Linked DNA regions of Homo sapiens. The protein of the gene in region 3 purifies or fractionates together with the protein of the main gene of each other region. This does not show direct contact. Each region holds a gene or a part of one and is shown on either strand. Other genes may lie near its edges.

Evidence for each region. Proteins that work in one complex are often made in the same cells at the same time.
Region 1: the proteins of CLASRP (region 3) and RBM38 purify together in Homo sapiens (affinity purification with mass spectrometry; one large-scale study listed by BioGRID and IntAct). This does not show direct contact.
Region 2: the proteins of CLASRP (region 3) and PUM1 purify together in Homo sapiens (affinity purification with mass spectrometry; 2 studies listed by BioGRID and IntAct, with this or other methods). This does not show direct contact.
Region 4: the proteins of CLASRP (region 3) and ETV3 purify together in Homo sapiens (affinity purification with mass spectrometry; one large-scale study listed by BioGRID and IntAct). This does not show direct contact.

What each region holds. Positions count from the first base shown.
Region 1 is NC_000020.11:57,390,089-57,394,832, forward strand, and holds the start of RBM38 (RNA-binding protein 38), read left to right. Parts: upstream 1-1,307; 5' UTR 1,308-1,493; coding exon 1,494-1,730; intron 1,731-2,190; exon of another isoform or gene 2,191-2,308; coding exon of another isoform or gene 2,309-2,404; exon of another isoform or gene 2,405-2,565; coding exon 2,566-2,689; exon of another isoform or gene 2,690-2,968; intron 2,969-3,190; coding exon 3,191-3,245; intron 3,246-4,744. UniProt on the Homo sapiens protein: RNA-binding protein that specifically bind the 3'-UTR of CDKN1A transcripts, leading to maintain the stability of CDKN1A transcripts, thereby acting as a mediator of the p53/TP53 family to regulate CDKN1A.
Region 2 is NC_000001.11:30,953,581-30,957,717, forward strand, and holds part of PUM1 (pumilio homolog 1), read right to left. Parts: intron 402-4,137; coding exon 134-401; intron 1-133. UniProt on the Homo sapiens protein: Sequence-specific RNA-binding protein that acts as a post-transcriptional repressor by binding the 3'-UTR of mRNA targets.
Region 3 is NC_000019.10:45,044,879-45,049,653, reverse strand, and holds part of CLASRP (CLK4-associating serine/arginine rich protein), read right to left. Parts: intron 1-4,775. UniProt on the Homo sapiens protein: Probably functions as an alternative splicing regulator. May regulate the mRNA splicing of genes such as CLK1. May act by regulating members of the CLK kinase family.
Region 4 is NC_000001.11:157,120,759-157,124,895, forward strand, and holds the end of ETV3 (ETS translocation variant 3), read right to left. Parts: coding exon 4,083-4,137; 3' UTR 433-4,082; downstream 1-432. UniProt on the Homo sapiens protein: Transcriptional repressor that contribute to growth arrest during terminal macrophage differentiation by repressing target genes involved in Ras-dependent proliferation. Represses MMP1 promoter activity.

The DNA of each region.
Region 1 (4,744 bases), on a different chromosome or scaffold from region 3:
AGGGGGCGGGCAGACTCCTCCCCGCCGGCAGCCAGGGCAGAGGGCTGGAGGAAACGCGGAGAACTCCTCGGTGCTGGAGGAAACGAGGGGAACTCCTCGCCGGCCTTGCGGTCCCCCACAGCCCACGGAGTGCCACTCCCAGTCCCCACAGACCCCACCTGCGTCGCCCTGTGCTGAGAGGAGGCCGCAGGGCTGGGGCCGGGAGTGACCCCAATTAGAGCTGCTGTTTCCCAGCTGCATAGGTCCCAACCGCGGGGGCTGGAGATGAGGCGGGCTTGAGGCCCCTAGTCCCGGCTTCAGAGGTGGAGGGTGTGACCCGCAGGTCCGGGATCCCGGGGTCTGTGCAGTCACACGGCCCTTCCCTTCGCTCAGGAAAGCCCGGGGCTGAGTTTCATGCTCAACCGCTGCCAACTTGAAATTCCTAGCTTTTGAATAAGGGGCCCCGCGTTTGCATTTTGCACTGGGCCCCGAAAATTCTGTGGCTGGCCCTGCCTGGTGTGAAGCTCACAGAGCCCCACTATGCGCCGCCTTTCTATGGCTGGGGGCCGGATGAGGGACCCGGGTCTGCTCTTACTCGCCCCAAGGGTCCCTGACACCAGCCCAGAACGGGGTGGAGCTGGAAAGAGCCCACACCTGCTTCCTCTGCCCACCTCATCTCCCGCGGGGCCTCTGAGACCGCCCGGGACCCGCTTCTATCGCGGCACCGTGGTGTAGCTCCCTCCGGGGTCGTATGCTGTATGTTTACTAGCCGAATTCTCAGTCCTGGACGCTCCGTGGGGCCAGGGAATATGATCTGTGCTCCGCTGCAGCCTCGCGCCCAGAGTAAATATCGGTCGGATGAACTAATCTTACATATAAAACAGAAATCATTTCCCTTTTTTAATATGGCACGTGGCTCTTCCCTAAGTCGCCCTGGGTTAAATACCGACTCAATTAACAAGATGCTAAAAACCGTTTACGTTTTTTTACGTTTTTTACGTTTAATTCACCAGACGGTGCGCTCCACGAGGGAAGGGGCCTGGCCTCCCTAGTTCAGGGTTGTGCTTAGTGCCTGCAACCGGCCGGGCCCGCGGGGGCAGCCAGGAGAGAAAGGCGCGCCCAGCGCCCCCAGGCCCGGATCCGCCCTCAGCCCGCGTGCGCTCCCCTCCCCCCTCCCCCCAATCGCCGCGCGCCCGGGTGCGGCTGGGCGGGGTTAGAACTACGCTTCCCGGCGGTCCCCGCGCGCCCGGGGCGGGGCGGGGCCGGCTGGGGGCGGGGCTGAGCTGGCGGGGGCGGCAGGCTACAAAGCCCGGGGGCGGTGCCGGGGCGCAGAGTCCCCGCAGCGCCGGTCGGGAGCGCAGCGCGGCGCACGTCGGCGCGCACGGCGGGACGGGCGCCGGAGTGGTCGGGCCTGGCGGCTGGACGGGCGCCCCTCGCTGCCCCGCGCGCTCCCCGCCGCCCCCCATGAGCGCAGCCCCGCGCGGCCCGGGTCCGTAGGCGGCGGGGCGCCCCCCATGCTGCTGCAGCCCGCGCCGTGCGCCCCGAGCGCGGGCTTCCCGCGGCCCCTGGCCGCCCCCGGCGCCATGCACGGCTCGCAGAAGGACACCACGTTCACCAAGATCTTCGTGGGCGGCCTGCCGTACCACACTACCGACGCCTCGCTCAGGAAGTACTTCGAGGGCTTCGGCGACATCGAGGAGGCCGTGGTCATCACCGACCGCCAGACGGGCAAGTCCCGCGGCTACGGCTTCGTAAGTGGCCCCCGCGCCCGGGCCCGCACCCCGCCGCACACCTTATCGCGGCCCGGGCGCCGAGTCCACTCCGGGGCACACGCCCAGACGGCCCGCTGCCGCCCCCGCCCCAGGCGCCTCCAGCCGGCGCCCGCACCTGCCGCCTCTCCCGGGCGCGCTCCTGCCGGTCCCGCCCCCACCACCCCAGGCCCCGGCCCCCACCCCCACCCCCACCCCCACCCCCACCCCCGGTTTAAAAGGAAGAGCCGCTGTGTTCAATTAGGACTCCTAAGTTGGTGGGGAGGTTTTGGAGCCAGAGGGCACTCGGGATTTCCTGGAGCAGCGGGGGGTGAGGAGCAATGGCTCCACCCCGGGGTGTTAGGAGCTCTTCGGCCTCCCCCATATTTTTAACAGCCCTCTCAGCCGCCCCAAATAAACATCAGCTTAAGTAAAAACGTCTTGAAGACACTTTCCTGCTTACCTTCCAAGCATAGCGTCGCAAACTCCTTCTCAGAGGAAAGTCTCGGCCCTCACTGGTGGGCAAGTCCAGGCGGCCCCCCAAGCTCCCTTCGGGGTTCATTTTTGCCCTATCCCCGCAGGGGATTATTTTTGTCCTTGAAGGCCACATTTCCCAGGCCTTGAACTTTGACGGGAGGAGCTGGAATCCAGGAGGCATCTTTGTGGGAGAGCCCCAGGTAGGGTTCAGAGGAGCTTTGGCTCAAGGACCCTGGGTCACAGGCACCCTCAGAGGAAGGGAAGAGAGGGGTGGCAGCATCCGGTGCCAGGGCGGAGCCGTCTGCCCCTTTCGCCCCTGGTTCCCCCCACGGCAGCCCCTGATGTGTCTCTGCTCCACCAGGTGACCATGGCCGACCGGGCGGCAGCTGAGAGGGCTTGCAAAGACCCGAACCCCATCATCGACGGCCGCAAGGCCAACGTGAACCTGGCATATCTGGGCGCCAAGCCGCGGAGCCTCCAGACGGGTGAGAGCTTGTGTTTTCCTGCCTGGCTCTTCTCGGTTTCTATATTGGGTGTCGGTATCTGTCGGGTGGAAAGAGGCCCCCCCTCCTCGCCCCAGCAGTGGCAGTCGGCTATCATGTGCCTGCAGAGCCGGCACAGGGCAGCCATCCCCCCCTCGAGGATCTAGACCCCTTCTCACAGCGTGTGGCCCAAAGAAGGGGGCGGGGGGCAGGGAGGGTACTGCACCCCAGTTGCCAGCTGTCCTCGCAGGAGGGAGGAAGTGGCCATGGGGCCTGGAGGTTGGGAGTGCCGACACCAGTGGCTGCTGACACCTGCGTCACTCACTGCCACACTTCAGCGGTGTGCCTTGGGGTTCACAAGGGGGAGGCCTGGGAGGGGAGAGGAAGCGGATGATCCCTTTTGACTAGAGGTGTGTGGCTTGTGGGATTCTGCCACCCTGTGTGCAGCCCTTGAGACGTGGCTCGTGCAGCAAGGCCAAGTCCCTGATTGTTCTCTCGTTTTAGGCTTTGCCATTGGGGTGCAGCAGCTGCACCCCACCTTGATCCAGCGGACTTACGGGTGAGTGGACATGGCTGGCTTGGGGTGGGTAGTCCGTGGAGATGAAGTGGAGAGGGCCTTGGGCTTCCTGGGTCTGGAAGGCTGGGGAAATGACAGTTTTCAGACATTTGATTGCGTTTAAGCCAAGGGAGTGAAGAGAAGGCAGATTGCACTTCTCCATCCCTGGCAGAGGCCATACCACCTAGGGGATGGTGAGCCTTGGAGCCTGCCTGCCTTGGTACACACCCCAGCTCCCTTCGCTAGGTGTGTGGCCTCAGTTTCCTCACCCGTAAAATGGGAGTGGTCACAGCACATCTGAGTTCTCTGAATGGAGGGCCTAGGGTGGGCCTGGTGCAGGTAACGCCCTCTTGAAGTGTTTGCTGATGACTCTTAGGGACTGGCAGGCTGAGTTCTTCCCCAGGCACTCCTCTCACCTGTTCTAGTGCTGGGGCAGGTGGTGGCAGTAGGTCATTGCTACCAAGGTCTGATGTTTGTGAACGTTGCTGTAGATACGATGTGTTTGGGGTGGAGGCCACCTGCCTGAGTGGCCTGGCCTATGGGCTTCTAGTCTGACTCATTTACAAGCAGCGCAGCCCACTCTTCTCCATCCTAAAACGCCTCCCACCTCCCTGCCCTTTTTTAAAACATCTAGTAAGTCCTGGCAGCTGCTTGGGGAGGGACACACACACTTAAGGGATACAAAGAGTCCTGCCTTGCGGCCTGCCTCCCCACCCCCATGATGGATGGAAGCTGTCTGCCCTAGCGCCGTGGCATATTGATGGGGTTGGAGTTGGAGGGGAAGGCAGCTCAGAGACCACCACCCCTTTCAGGGCATTGGCACTTCATGAACTTTCTGAATCCAAATCCCTAATGCCAGTTGATCACGTGTGTGTGCTCACGCATGTGCGCACCACGTAGATTCCATTGAGAGAGACACAGCTTGAGGAGTAACCTGCCTGACTGGGGCAGTGTGGACAAGGATCCTGTGGAACCCGGCTGAGCCTGGCTCCCAGGTGAATGGGTCCCCTGGGGCCTGGCTCCCAGGTGAATGGGTCAGAGGCCCCAGCAGAAGTTGCTGTGCCCACTTTTTGGGAACGCTTGGGGTGACTCGGGGGCTCCCTGCCGGCTTCCGTGTGTATTGGTGGATGTGTGCAAGTGTAGCAGTGGGAGGAGCCGCTGGCTGAGGGGTGCTGGAGGGTGGCCGGGGCCCTTCTAGCCTGTGCGAGTGGCCGGGCAGCTCAGGTTCCTGCCGGGGTGCCTCTGTCCTCCTGGGAAGGGAGCGTGTAGGGTGGTGGGAGCAGGCGGCCCTGTCCGTCTCGTCCTGGAATCTGTTTTGTAGATGTCTAGAGTCGTCTTAGAGGGTGTTTGGGGACACTGTAGCCTTCATGCCTTCACCGAGATTCTTCCTATGGGGTTCAGGCCACATGAAGAGGGTGTTCCTTGTTTTCCAGAACCTTGGCTCCATTCCCCAGGCCCACAGCAGGCGCCTGGGGGCATGGACTGGGCGGGAGCAGCTGCCC
Region 2 (4,137 bases), on a different chromosome or scaffold from region 3:
GTGATGCAAACTAAGAGGCACGCTTTTAAAAAATTACTATATGGCAATTTATTTAAGTAGATACCCATCTGAGCCAAGACAGTTAAGGCATTACAATTTCGGGTACCTTAAAGTGCCAAAGCCAAGTACTCACCTGGACCCATGCTGGTCTTGGGAAAATTCCATTATATGTCCAGCAATCTCCCGCAGTTGTAAATTGGGGTACCGGTTGTTTCGAAAATCTTCCAAAAGCCTGCTCCTGCCAGAAGGCATGACATCAGACATTCCATATCGCAAACGAGAGGAAGAGAAAAGAGTGCTGCTCGGGCTGAAGAGGCTGGAGGCGCTGCTTGCACTGCGGTACTTGGCTTCAGCGCCTGGAGCAGCAGAGATGTATCTTCCACTGCCATTCGTGAGTCCTCCTGTTGGTTACAGAACAGGATAACTTAAGACCACTCTTCAGCAACTTCATTCAAGAGAGAAAAAAGCATTCCCACACCCGAAAGCCTGCACCATTTCTGATTTCTTCAATGCTGTTGTTTTTGTGTCAAGACAATTCTATTAGCGTCATGACTTTCGTGGGTCAACTCAACAACCTGGAAGGAAACTTTTGCACAAAGATTGAGAAGGGAATGCTTTTACCGTTGATGGTAGACTGCTAGTAAGGCTGGAGCAACAGTTAGCATGGCCCCTAGTAAATGAAATGAGGAAGAAATGTGCCGACCAGGTGAACCTAGCACCTGAGCACCAGCAATAAAAACTCAGAAAATGCAAAACAAACTCAGACTGGAGTGGTTTTCCATTCTGAGATCTGCGGAGATTCCTTTCATTCTTGAATAACCCCCATTTCCATCTGAAACCCACTCTAAAAAATCAGGCATCCAGATTGGTCTGTTTTATACAGGGGATCCCATGAAAAAGCTGTCTTTGAAGGAATGATTTTGCCACTAAATAGAAGTGTGAAAATCGCTAAGACATTCCAGGCCATGGATGAGACATAATGAGTACAAGACAGGAGATGCCTTAAAAATGAAAAATTTTCGAGTTTTCATTACAAATGGACAGCTCTTAACAATTTCTATTGTGACACAGCCTGAAATGACTGTAGTTCCAACAACCTTCATGCCACTGATAATGCTGTTTTGATGGGTGACAAGGGAATAATTGTGAATCACAGATAAAACAAACATATGACCAAAAGGCGTATCAAAACATATAGCAGGCCAGGCGTGGTGGCTGATGTCTGTAAACCCAACACTTTGGGAAGTCGAAGCAGGAGGATGGCTTGAGCCTAAGAGTTCGAGACCAGCCTGGACAACAGAGAGAGACCCCATCTCTAAAAAAAAATAAAAAATAAAAATTAGCTGGGTGTGGTGATACACACCTGTAGTCCTAACTACTTGGGATGTTGAGATAGGAGGATCACCTGAGCCCAGTAGGTCGAGGCTGCAGTAAGCCATGATTGCACCACTCCACTCCAGTCTAGGCAACAGAGCAAGACCTTGTCTCCAAAAAAAACAAACAAACAAACAAAAAAAAACAAAAACAAACAAACAGAAAAAAACAGTATAGCAGCATAATAAATTATGAGTATTTTAAAATAACAAAATAACAGGCCAGGGACGGTGGCTCATGCCTGTAATCCTGACACTTTGGGAGGCTGAGACGGGCCGATCACAAGGTCGGGAGATCAAGACCATCCTGGCTAACACGGTGAAACCCCGACTCTACTAAAAAATACAAAAAAAAAAAAAAAAATTAGCTGGGCGTGGTGGCAGGTGCCTGTAATCCCAGCTACTTGGGAGGCTGAGGCAGGAGAATGGCGAACCCCGGAGGCAGGGCTTGCAGTGAGCCGAGATTGTGCCACTGCACTCCAGCCTGGGCGACAGAGCAAGACTCCATCTGAAAAAAAAAAAAAACCAAACCAAAACAAAACAAAACAAAAAACAGTTCTTATTTTATTTCATTTTAAATTTTGATTGCAATAGAAAAAAGATGCCAAGCCTTTCTGGGGTTGTTTCCCCCACCTCCTTTTAAACAAAAGGCCAAAGGAGGTAAGAAATATTACATAAACCACAAAAAGTTTAGATGAATAACAATTAAAAACCCACGAGAAAAGTCATCCAATATTAACTACTTCTCAACTCTTCACAAGTCTTAATAAATGTCTGGTTTGGGGTTTAATGGTAGCCACAAAAAGATACCCAGGCTGGACTTCACAGAATTCCAGGGCCCAGCTTCAAAAGTCTGGGTCTCAATCAAAGTGATGAAACCAAAAGAAAATGACTCAATGCAGAAATTTGTAAAATATTTACTTAGTATTTGTCCTAAGCCCAATTCTATGTTAGAAGTTTTTCATATACACTTTCTCTGGAATTCTCACTGGCATTTTGGAAAAGGAGTTTGCAACTCCCATTTATGTAACAGAAAATTAAGCCCAGAGAGGTGAAATGTTCATCCAAAGATACAAAACCCAAAATTGTCATGGCCAGAATTCAGAACAGGGCTCTTGACTCCAGGGTCAAGGCCCTTTCGGGGTCTGAAATTCATTTTCTGACTCAGTTTCATCAAGTTTTCTTGTTCTACAGAACATTCTTGTCAAATTCCACAGTATTTCTGAATTCAAATGAAAAGTGATTTTTTTAAGGAAGAAAGGAGATTAACTGAAAAGAAAACAGCAGTCATAAGACTGTTTTTTTTTGTTTTGTTTTTTGTTTTTTTTGAGACGGAGTCTTGCTCTGTCACCTAGGCTGGAGTGCAATGGTGCAATCTCAGCTCACTGCAATCTCCGCCTCCCAGGTTGAAGCAATTCTCCCACCTCAGCCGTCCAAGTAGCTGGGACTACAGGTGTGCACCACCACGCCCGGCTAATTTTTGTACTTTTAGTAGAGATGGGGTTTCACCATGTTGGCCAGACTACTCTCAAACTCCTGACCTCATGTGATCCGCCCATCTCAGCCTCCCAAAGTGCTGGGATTACAGGCATGAGCCACGGCGCCCGGCCAAGACTGTTCTTTATTCCATTTCAGAAACAATTCTGTCTTACCTGTCTGAGGCTGGGGAGAAATGGACAAAGAGGTGGTAACAGGGTAGGTTGGCAGGTATGGGGAAAGTGTGGCAATAGCAACAAACATACCAAAGAAGAAGGTATGGGGCGAACACACAATGTTTTGAAAACAATTTAAAGGGATTTTAAGAAACTGGTCACTGACCAAAATGGAAGGTAAATTATAAAGGAGCCAGGTCCTTGGTGACAATGTTTAATGACAAGACAAACCAACCCTGAACACTGCCCTACCACTATACTTCCAGTTATAAAGGCCAATAAATGCACTTATTGTTTAAGCCACTCTTTGTTGGATGTTCTGTTATTATGGGCAAAAACATAATGACTAATCCACACACAGGACTGGACTGAACAACAGTTAATACGCCTACAAAAACGGTTAATACATTTACCGTGAAGTTTTGATTTTTGCCTCTTATCTCCTTAGATGTCAGACAAGTACATACTACAAGGACATTCATACACACACACACACACACACACACACACACACACACAGCTTTTATTACTAAGAAATATAGACATCTCTGAAGTGAAATTTTCCTAGGTACTAAATTATAAATGGCAATGGCAAACTGACAGTTCACAGACATATTTTGTTTGAGCCAAGCAGTACTTCTTTCAACATTAAGCCAAAGCTTAAATTTTTGCTCTAAATTGTAATATCTTGTTTTTGAAAAAAATGCGTGACAAATAGTAAATAAATATCTGACCATCAGTAAGTATTTGTTGACTGAATCTCATTTAGATGGCGAATGCACAAATGTGCTTTCCGATTCACAATAGTCTGAATACCAACATGTACTTGCACCCAAACCACTATAGCTCTGGGGGTTTGGGTGCAACACTCTGGAAGTGTTTAAATTTGCAACTGTTTTAAAAGAAACATTTCTCATAAGGCTTCAAAGGGACAGTGGTGGATTTCATAGGAGTGTGTCCTATGACAACTTTCCACAGAGAGTAAGGGCTTAAATGTTTTATTTAAATTAATAAGTGCTTCAGCTATTTTGCATAATTGTATATAAGGGATTTCTGCCAGTGGTCATGTAGTATGTCATGCCCATGCTACGTCAAATGTTATCATTTACTTG
Region 3 (4,775 bases):
TTTCCAAGCTCCTGCACATCCTCACTCTGTCTCCATCTCAGCCCTCAGCCAGCAGATGAGAAGGTGCAGTCCGGGCTGAAGGAGCTGAGTCACTCACCAGGACCACAGCTAATACCTGGCTAGTTTCAACCCCGCACTCACTATGTGCCAGGTGCTGGGCTGCTGTGACTCTCATTTCACACCTAAAGAAACTGAGTCTAAGGAACACTCAAGACCACAGGCCCAGCGAGGTGGCGCTGCTGGAGTCCAGCTACTCATGCTGCACCTCGCCTGCCTCCCTCGATTCCTTAGCTGATTCCTCAGCTGGGGCCACACAGCGCACCCAGCTCCCTCTGCCCTGGGACAAGCCAGCCAAGTCCAAGGCCAAGATCCCATCATACTCCTGAGGCTGCTCCAGGCCAAATGCCCAGTTCCCACAGCCAGGACTCATGGGACACTGTTTGCAGGACAGAATTTGGCAGGTACAGGGAAGCTACTGGCAGGGTCAGCTTCACAGAAAGGAATAAGCACTGAGCCGGGAGTAAACACCAGGAGTCCAGAGCCTGGTTCTGTTGGGAGATTCTGGAAAAGTCAATGAACCCTACTAAAAACCAGGCACTGTTTTATGTGCACTGTCTCACTCGAATGTCCCAACCATGGAAGAAACATACTATTCTTTTTCTTTTTTTGAAACAGAGTCTCGCTCTGTCACCCAGGCTGGAGTGCAATGGCGCGATCTCGGCTCACTGCAACCTCTGCCTCCCAAGTTCAAGGGATTCTCCTGCCTCAGCTTCCCGAGTAGCTGGGATTACAGGTGCCCGCCACCACGCTTGGCTAATTTTGGTATTTTTAGTAGAGACAGGGCTTCACCATGTTGGCCAGGCTGGTCGCTAACTCCTGACCTCGTGATCCGCCTGCCTCGGCCTCCCAAAGTGCTGGGATTACAGGCATGAGCCACCACGCCCAGCTGGTACTATTCTTATGCCCATGTTACAGATGAGTAAACTGAGGCTCAAAGCCATGGGGTCCACCTGCCTGACATTAGGAATAAGCAGAACTAGGATTCAAACCCAGATGGGCCTGGCTACAAAATCTGCTTCTTTTTATTTATTTGCTTTTTAAGAGTAATTTTTTGTTTGTCTGTTTTGAGACAAGAGTTTCACTCTTGTTGCCCAGGCTGGAGTGCAATGGCATGATCTCGGCTCACTGCAACCTCCGCCTCCCAGGTTCAAGCGATTCTCCTGCCTCAGCCTCCCGAGTACAGGCATGCACCAAAATGCCTGGCTAATTTTTTGTATTTTTAGTAGAGACGGGATTTCACCATGTTGGCCAGGCTGGTCTCGAACTCCTGACCTCGTGATCCACCCGCCTCGGCCTCCCAAAGTGCTGGGATTACAGGCATGAGCCACCACGCCCAGCAGGTACTATTCTTATGCCCATGTTACAGATGAGTAAACTGAGGCTCAAAGCCATGGGGTCCACCTGCCTGACATTAGGAATAAGCAGAACTAGGATTTGAACCCAGATGGGCCTGACTACAAAATCTGCTTCTTTTTATTTATTTGCTTTTTAAGAGTAATTTTTTGTTTGTTTGTTTTGAGACAAGAGTTTCACTCTTGTTGCCCAGGCTGGAGTGCAATGGCATGATCTCGGCTCACTGCAACCTCCGCCTCCCAGGTTCAAGCGATTCTCCTGCCTCAGCCTCCCGAGTACAGGCATGCACCAACCTGCCTGGCTAATTTTTTGTATTTTTAGTAGAGATGGGATTTCACCACGTTGGCCAGGCTGGTCTTCAACTCCTGACCTCAGGTGATCTGCCTGCCTCAGCCACCCAAAATGCTGGGATTACAGGTGTGAGCCACCACATCTGGCCAAGAATAATTTTTTTATTGTGGTAGAAAACATTTACCATCTTAACATTTTTAAGTGTACAGTACAGTAGTAGTAACTACATCCACCCTGTGGTGCAACAGAGCTTTAGAACTTTTTAAATCTTACAAAACTGAAACAAAACTGAACTTCCCCTTTCCTCCTCCCCCCATCCCTGTCAACCTGCACTGTATTTTCTTTTTCTGAGGGTTTGACTTTTCTTTTAGGTTTTTTTTTCTTTACCAAAAATACAGAAGGTTTCACGAATTTTTGTGTCATCCTTGCACAGTGGCCATGCTAATCCCCGTATCGTTCCAATTTTAGTATATGTGCTGCCGAAGTGAGCTCCCTTCCTCCCTTCCTCTCTCTCTCTGTTTTTTTTTTTTTTTTTTTTGAGATGGAGTCTTGCTCTGTCACCCAGGCTGGAGTACAGTGGTGTGATCACAGTTCACTGCAGCCTGGAACTCCTGGGCTCAAGCAAGGTTTAACTATTTTAGATACTTATCAGCGGATCATACAATACTGTCTTTTTGCGACTGGCTTATTTCACTTAGCATAACATCTTCAGGGCTCATCGATATTGTAGCATAGGACAGGATTTCTTTCTTTTTTAAGATTGAATAATATTGCGTTATGTGTAGAGACCACATTTTCTTTCTCGATGTATCCCTCAATGGACATTTAGCTTGCGTCCACCTCTTGGCTATTGCTAATAATGCTGTAATGAACATAAGTGTATAAGTACCTCTTCAAGATCCAAAATCCACTTTTTTTTTTGGAGACAGAGTTTTGCTCTTGTTGTCCAGGCTGGGCTGCAATGGCGTGATCTAGGCTAACCACAATCTCTGCCTCCCGGGTTCAAGCGATTCTCCTGCCTCAGCCTCCCAGGTAGCTGGAACTGCAGGCATGTGCCACAACGCCCAGCTAATTTTGTATTTTTAGTAGAGATGACGTTTCTCCATGTTGGTCAGGCTGGTCTCAAACTCCTGACCTCAGGTGATCTGCTCACCTCAGCCTCCCAAAGTGTTGGGATTACAGGCGTGAGCTACCGCGCCCGGCCCAAAACCAACTCTTAACCACTGGATTATCCTGTCTCTAGGATCAGATTGTGTCAGAGGAGTTCATGAAGTTACTCATTCATTCATTCATTCATTCAACTGTTAAGCAGACCTTGTGCTAGGGTATGGCAGTAACTGAGATAGCCCTGGCCCTGCCCTCATGGGCTCACAGTCCAGTGTGGGACACAGACTTGTCCCCATACAAGGACAACCTAGAGTGGACAGCGCTGAGATGGGGGCCCACAGGGGGAACACCTGACCCAGACTTGGGGGTCAGTCTGGAGCTTCCTGGAGGAGGCGACGCCTGAGCTGCGACCTGTTTACTTCTTATTTCCGTATCAACAGAGGATTCTGTTTCTTTATCCAAACCACTGATTAAAAAGGAAAGTTGACAAGGACAGAAGCAATGACAGAACCGGAGTCTGCTTGGGACTGAAGACAGGGAGAGAAAGCAGGCACCAACGACAAATCAGGAAGACAGAAACCAACTGCATCTGGACATACTCATTCAGCCTGCCACAATCTACCGCAGCTTCACTGACACTCGCTCCACAGCCTCTGCTCTCGGCCCAAGGCTGAGATGAGAGTCCCCTCCTCAAAGCAGCCATCAGCCACGGCCCAGCCATACTCCACAGCTTGGCAGCCCAGATCGGAATGCAGGTCACGTTCACATACAGGGACAAAGGCCGCTTGTACAGGCCTGCACCACAAAGCACCCATAGACATTGGTTCTTTGAGCTCTTCCCCATTATCCAGTGAGAGGGGTTGGTCGTCACCACTGTCCTGAGGGGGAATACAATGCAGCAAGCTTCCCTGCTAACAGGGAGGGGGCCTGGAGTCTCAGCTCCAGCCTTCCTTCCTCTGCACCATCCCTCCACCTGGATCCAAACTCCAGTTCTATCAGCAACAGTAATGTCAATAACAAGAGCTAATATTTACTGAGCGATAGCGACGCTGGCCAGGCTGCTCTCAGTGGTCCATGTGTCCAACACTCCAACAACATCGAAGGACATGCTCTTGTCTCCACTGTTAGTGGCAAACCATTAATTGGCAACCAACATCTATTCCCTTTGCTACAACAGTAACAGAACTCCAAATATATCTGGTCAGGGCGACCCAAAATAAAGTCTACACCTCTTAGCCTTCCTCACGGCTGTTCATAAGACTACTTCCTGGTCAGCAGGGGAGGAGTGGAAATGTTACGGGAAAACATCCCGAAACTTTTTTTTTAAAGACAGGGTCTTATTCTCCCACTCAGGCTGGAGTGCAGTGGTACAATCACAGCTCACTGCAGCCTCCACCTCCTGGGTTCAAGAGATTCTCCCACCTCAGCCTCTTGAGGAGCTGGGACCACAGATGCACGCCATCATGCCCGGCTAATTTTTGTATATTTTGGTATAGACGGGGTTTCACCATGTTGTCCAGGCTGTTCTCGAACTCCTGGGCTCAAGCAGTCCTCCTGCCTCGGCCTCCCGAAGTGCTGGGATTACAGGCGTGAGCCACTGCACCTGGCCTAGAAACTTTCTCAACAAATGGCATGAGCGCTTTGCCCCTTTTCCTCCCTTTTTCCTCCCTGCTGGATAGAATGAAGACATGATGGCCAGAGCCTCTTAGACCTCGATGCAACACTAGGAAGAGAAGCTGTGCCCAGGAGAACAAAACAGAAGCGGCTTAGGTCCCCGAGCTAACTGGTTACCTCTTGGCTTTTCTGTGGCTAAGAAATAAACATCTATCTTGTTTAAGCCACTGACGGATGCTCTAGGTTTGTTAGAGCCAAAGCTGATTGTCCATGTGACATCCTTTCACATGTGGAAGAGGAAATGGGCTCAGGGAGGCAGTCACTTGCCCACGTCACACTATAGATAAGTG
Region 4 (4,137 bases), on a different chromosome or scaffold from region 3:
ACCCTAAAAAGGTAATCTGACCTGCTAATGGTTACTCCCCACTTTTCCCTGGTAACCACTAATCTGTGTTCAGTCGCTACAGATTTGCCTATTCTGGACACTTCATGTAAAAGGAATCACGCAATGTGTGGTCTTTTGTGTCTGGCTTTGACATGTACTCTTAAAGAATCTTCACAATAATCTTGAGATAGAAATTTCCACCTAACTTGCGTCTCTGGCTTCAGTTAGTTTTAACTGGTAGCAGCCATTCACTCAAGAAAATGGAAAATCTCCAGAACTGTTAAGAGACCTATTTCCTTACTATGTTGGTACCTGTACAATAGGAATAACAATGCATGAGGGTGGGGGAGCGAGGACGGACTTGGCAAATTCTCTGGCATGACCACCCCAGCACAGTGTATGATGAACAACAAAACCAACTCTCAGCAAACATTACTTAAAAGTATTTTTTTATTTAATTTCTGAGGTAAAATACTTTTTTCTTTCAACTTCCATAACAAAATACAGAGCTATCAGATACCCCTGGAAAAAATATGTATATTATACATATATTTCTATAACATTACATCATATATATATAATATATATGCAAAAATTTGAAGACTTTATAGAAAGCGGAACATCTAAAAGGCACTGCACAATGGAGTTAAGATTACTTACATTTTATGTACATATACACACTTTACTCTGCTCAAGCAGGTAACTAGTGAAGTCACCTTTCACATGTAAATGTCTCATTCACAAATCCCTGCATCACAATTCTATAACTCAAAGAATGCTTAAATATCTCAAAACAAATTAACTGGTAACTTTTTATCCCCCTAAGAAGAAACCAAGAATGGAACAGTTCTTGAAAGATTGAATCAAAGTTGTCTTCTAAACAAAATAAAAATGTACGTTCCATTACTGTTTACAAAACAAAAAGCACAAACATAATTATGGAATAAATAAAAAACAAGGGACAAACAGCCAACTGACTCTACCCACTTGGTGAGAAGTGATATACTTCAACTATTTTTTTAATGCTTCTGAAAGTTTCTTGGCCCACAGAGGACTAGGGTGCAATCATTCCCTGTGTTAGTGAGTTGGGTTTAATGCAGCTTCAAAATTAGGGTAAAGGGACTTGGTGAAATGTTTACATTAAATATTTCACTCCTACCCATTCTTCAGGAAAAAAGGTGAGCTCAGCAAGGCTGGATGCCATTAAGAGATATTTACTGTTTTCTTTTTCTATAGCTAAAAAAGCAAACTTTACACGAAGAAGCTCTTGATTAAGGAAATTTCAATAGATTCATATTTATAAAATTTTAAACATTTGGCACAGCAAAATTTGGAAAAAATGGGGGAGAAAAAATAGGTCTGGTTGTTGTCCCCCTTTTTCCACCTGCTGCTGGACAGTGATGAGATGCTCACAGAAGAAAAAGGCCTGGCTTTGTACCAGGCTGGCGACAGGTGCTACCAGGAGTGGGCTGAGGGGAGAAAAACTATCTCCCACTCTTTTGGCCCAGGCAATGTCAACGACTTCCACATTCCCTGGCCCACTTCCTGAGCAACCCCAGGTTCGGCTCTGTATAAGGACCCTCCCCTCCCAACCCCAACCCCAGAGTGCAGTGCAAATCAACCAACAATTTACTGGTGGAATGGCAATCAAAGGAAACAGTTAAACACCAAACAATTTCTTAAAGCCAAAAAATATTTTTCATGGAGTTGAACATTTTTCGAGTGTGTTTTTTTCAAGTGTAAAAGCAGTGACATTTTGTTCAAACAGAAGCAGCATCTAGGAATTCTGGCACTTGGGTTCTAGGGGGTTACAGGTATGCATCATGGATTCTTCTCCCTCGTATTTAAAAAGGCCTCGTGTTTCTATTCCTGAGTTCATACCAACACCTGCTAGCTCTCCCCTCTAGCGGACAGTGGGTGGCCAGCCAGCCTCCCTGGTTAGATTGGGCAATGCCAAGCAGACATCCCTCATTCACCTGCTGGGCTTGCTTTCTGATTCAGAGGTAAGTCGAAGTGCAGAGAAAGAAACTTACAAAAGCACAACCACCAAAGGCAGCCTGAACGGGGAGCCCTGTGCAGACTGAGTTGCTGGAGACTACCCTCTCAGTCCCATTCCTGGGGAAAGGTAGGTCACTCATGGAATTTGAATCAAACATGGGGGAGGACACCTGCCAAGCAATAGTATGATGGACTCAAGTCATCCCAGGCCATCTACTGTCTCCCTCACCTGCCCTAACCTTTTCTGAGTCCCTCCCTCTCTTGTGCAAGCACTGTAGTTTAAAAAGGAAAAAACACCCCCCACCATTAAAAGACAACCTTCAAATGTTACTCAGTATATAAAGTTTGCTTAGGCTAAGGTGGAGTCAGAAATGTCTCTAATTGTAGACACCATCTCTGTGCCACCCTTCCTCTCATCGGATATGGAGTGATTTCTTCTCTCGCTGCTGCGACGCAGATCTGAGCCACAGTCAGGTACCAATGTACACGACATAGGCACATGTGCAAACACAAAGAAGGTGGGCTGCTGCTTCTTTCTCTCTGCCCCTAGTCCAGGCTCCTTTGCTTCACGTAAGATTAACACTTTCCCATTCCTCTGAAGTTGCTGGAAGGACATTTCCCAGGAAGAAACAATTCCTCACTGCCTATAAACTGTAGTCTCATGTGGGATAGTCAATTGAACATGAGAATCAGAACAATCTGGGCAAATGGGTATGGCAAGAATGGGAACACCACAACAGGACAGATGCCAACTCTCATTCATGCCAGGCCTTTTGGCATCTGGGTGCCTTCTGTGTCTTCTTTCCACCTCTTCCTTCAGTCTCAACATCCACTTGTACCCCCAGCTACCTCCCATGTTTCCAGGTATCATTGGCTCTTAACTCCCACAAGCCTGCCTTTTGGCTACCCATCCCAACAATATCAAGAGGGAATGACTAAGTATCAGCTAGAAACTTAGCCATGTCTCAACATTCCTGGATTATCTGAAAAGCTGTCGATGCCCTTTTACAGGTTTATGGTGACAGACCCGTATCATCTTAAAGTATGTTCATAGTTAAGGCTTGACTTAAGAAAATAAGAGAACCAGACATAATGGAAAGACCTCTTCAATAATGTTGTCATGCCTCTCAGTGAACGTGCTCACAGTCACACTTGGTTTGGCTCCCCAAACCCACAATAGAAAAGGAAAAATGAGTATTTTGTTTTTCATCTGTTTTGTATTTAAAGGCATTGGGTTACTTCCTCCTGCCCTCTTTTCTTCCCTGAACAAGAGTTTACAACTCCTCATGGCTTCTTAATAGGTGAAGTAGGTGAAAAGTCTGAGAAGCTCACAGCAGGGTTTGCCGTCCCAACTATGCAGCTGAGAGGTCGCCAGCTCCTGTGCCTTCCCAGCCCCACTATAATTGGCAGTATGTTTGTTCATGTTTCCTGAAAACATTTTCTTTAAAAAGGAAAAGAAAAAAATGCCAAACAACACCAACCAAAAAAAAAAAAAAAAAAAAAAGAAGGAAGAAGAAAAAGAGCAACATCCAAACATTCCCCAAGCCCCACCCCAGTAAGTCTGAGATTATCTTATTCCTTCCCTGAAATAATTATAAAGAAGCATTTCAGGCAAAATACTTAGTATTAATGGTCTCTTACTGCTCAACCTCCCAACCATGCCCTTTTCCCTTTTATGTGTATCTCTTGGAGTAAAATAAATTCATTAATGGCTTTCCACATACAAATACAATAGAAAAGAAAGAAGTCTGGAACCTGACTATCATGGGACCAAAAAGTATCTTGGCCCTTTGGGAGTTTCCTTGTCAGAAAGTATAAGCCTCAACAGGAAATAGAGGCTCCTTCTCCTTTGAGTTCAATACCCTCCCTGTGTCCTACTCACCAGGAAAATAAGTGTGTTCATATCCCACCTAATTTACAACAGAAGATAACCCCATCCCATCCCCAAAACATAAAAATACAAGTCTATGCCCCTAGAATGATCAAACCAGTTTAACTCCCTCCCCCCCACCCTGAAATCTTGCTACATAAATACATGTATGTATTTGATTATAGTATAAACAGCTCCTAATCCACTTCCAGTTCTAAGCATCAGCAGCTGCTGTTGCCAAGCCCTGGGGTCCTGACCCATTCCAGAGA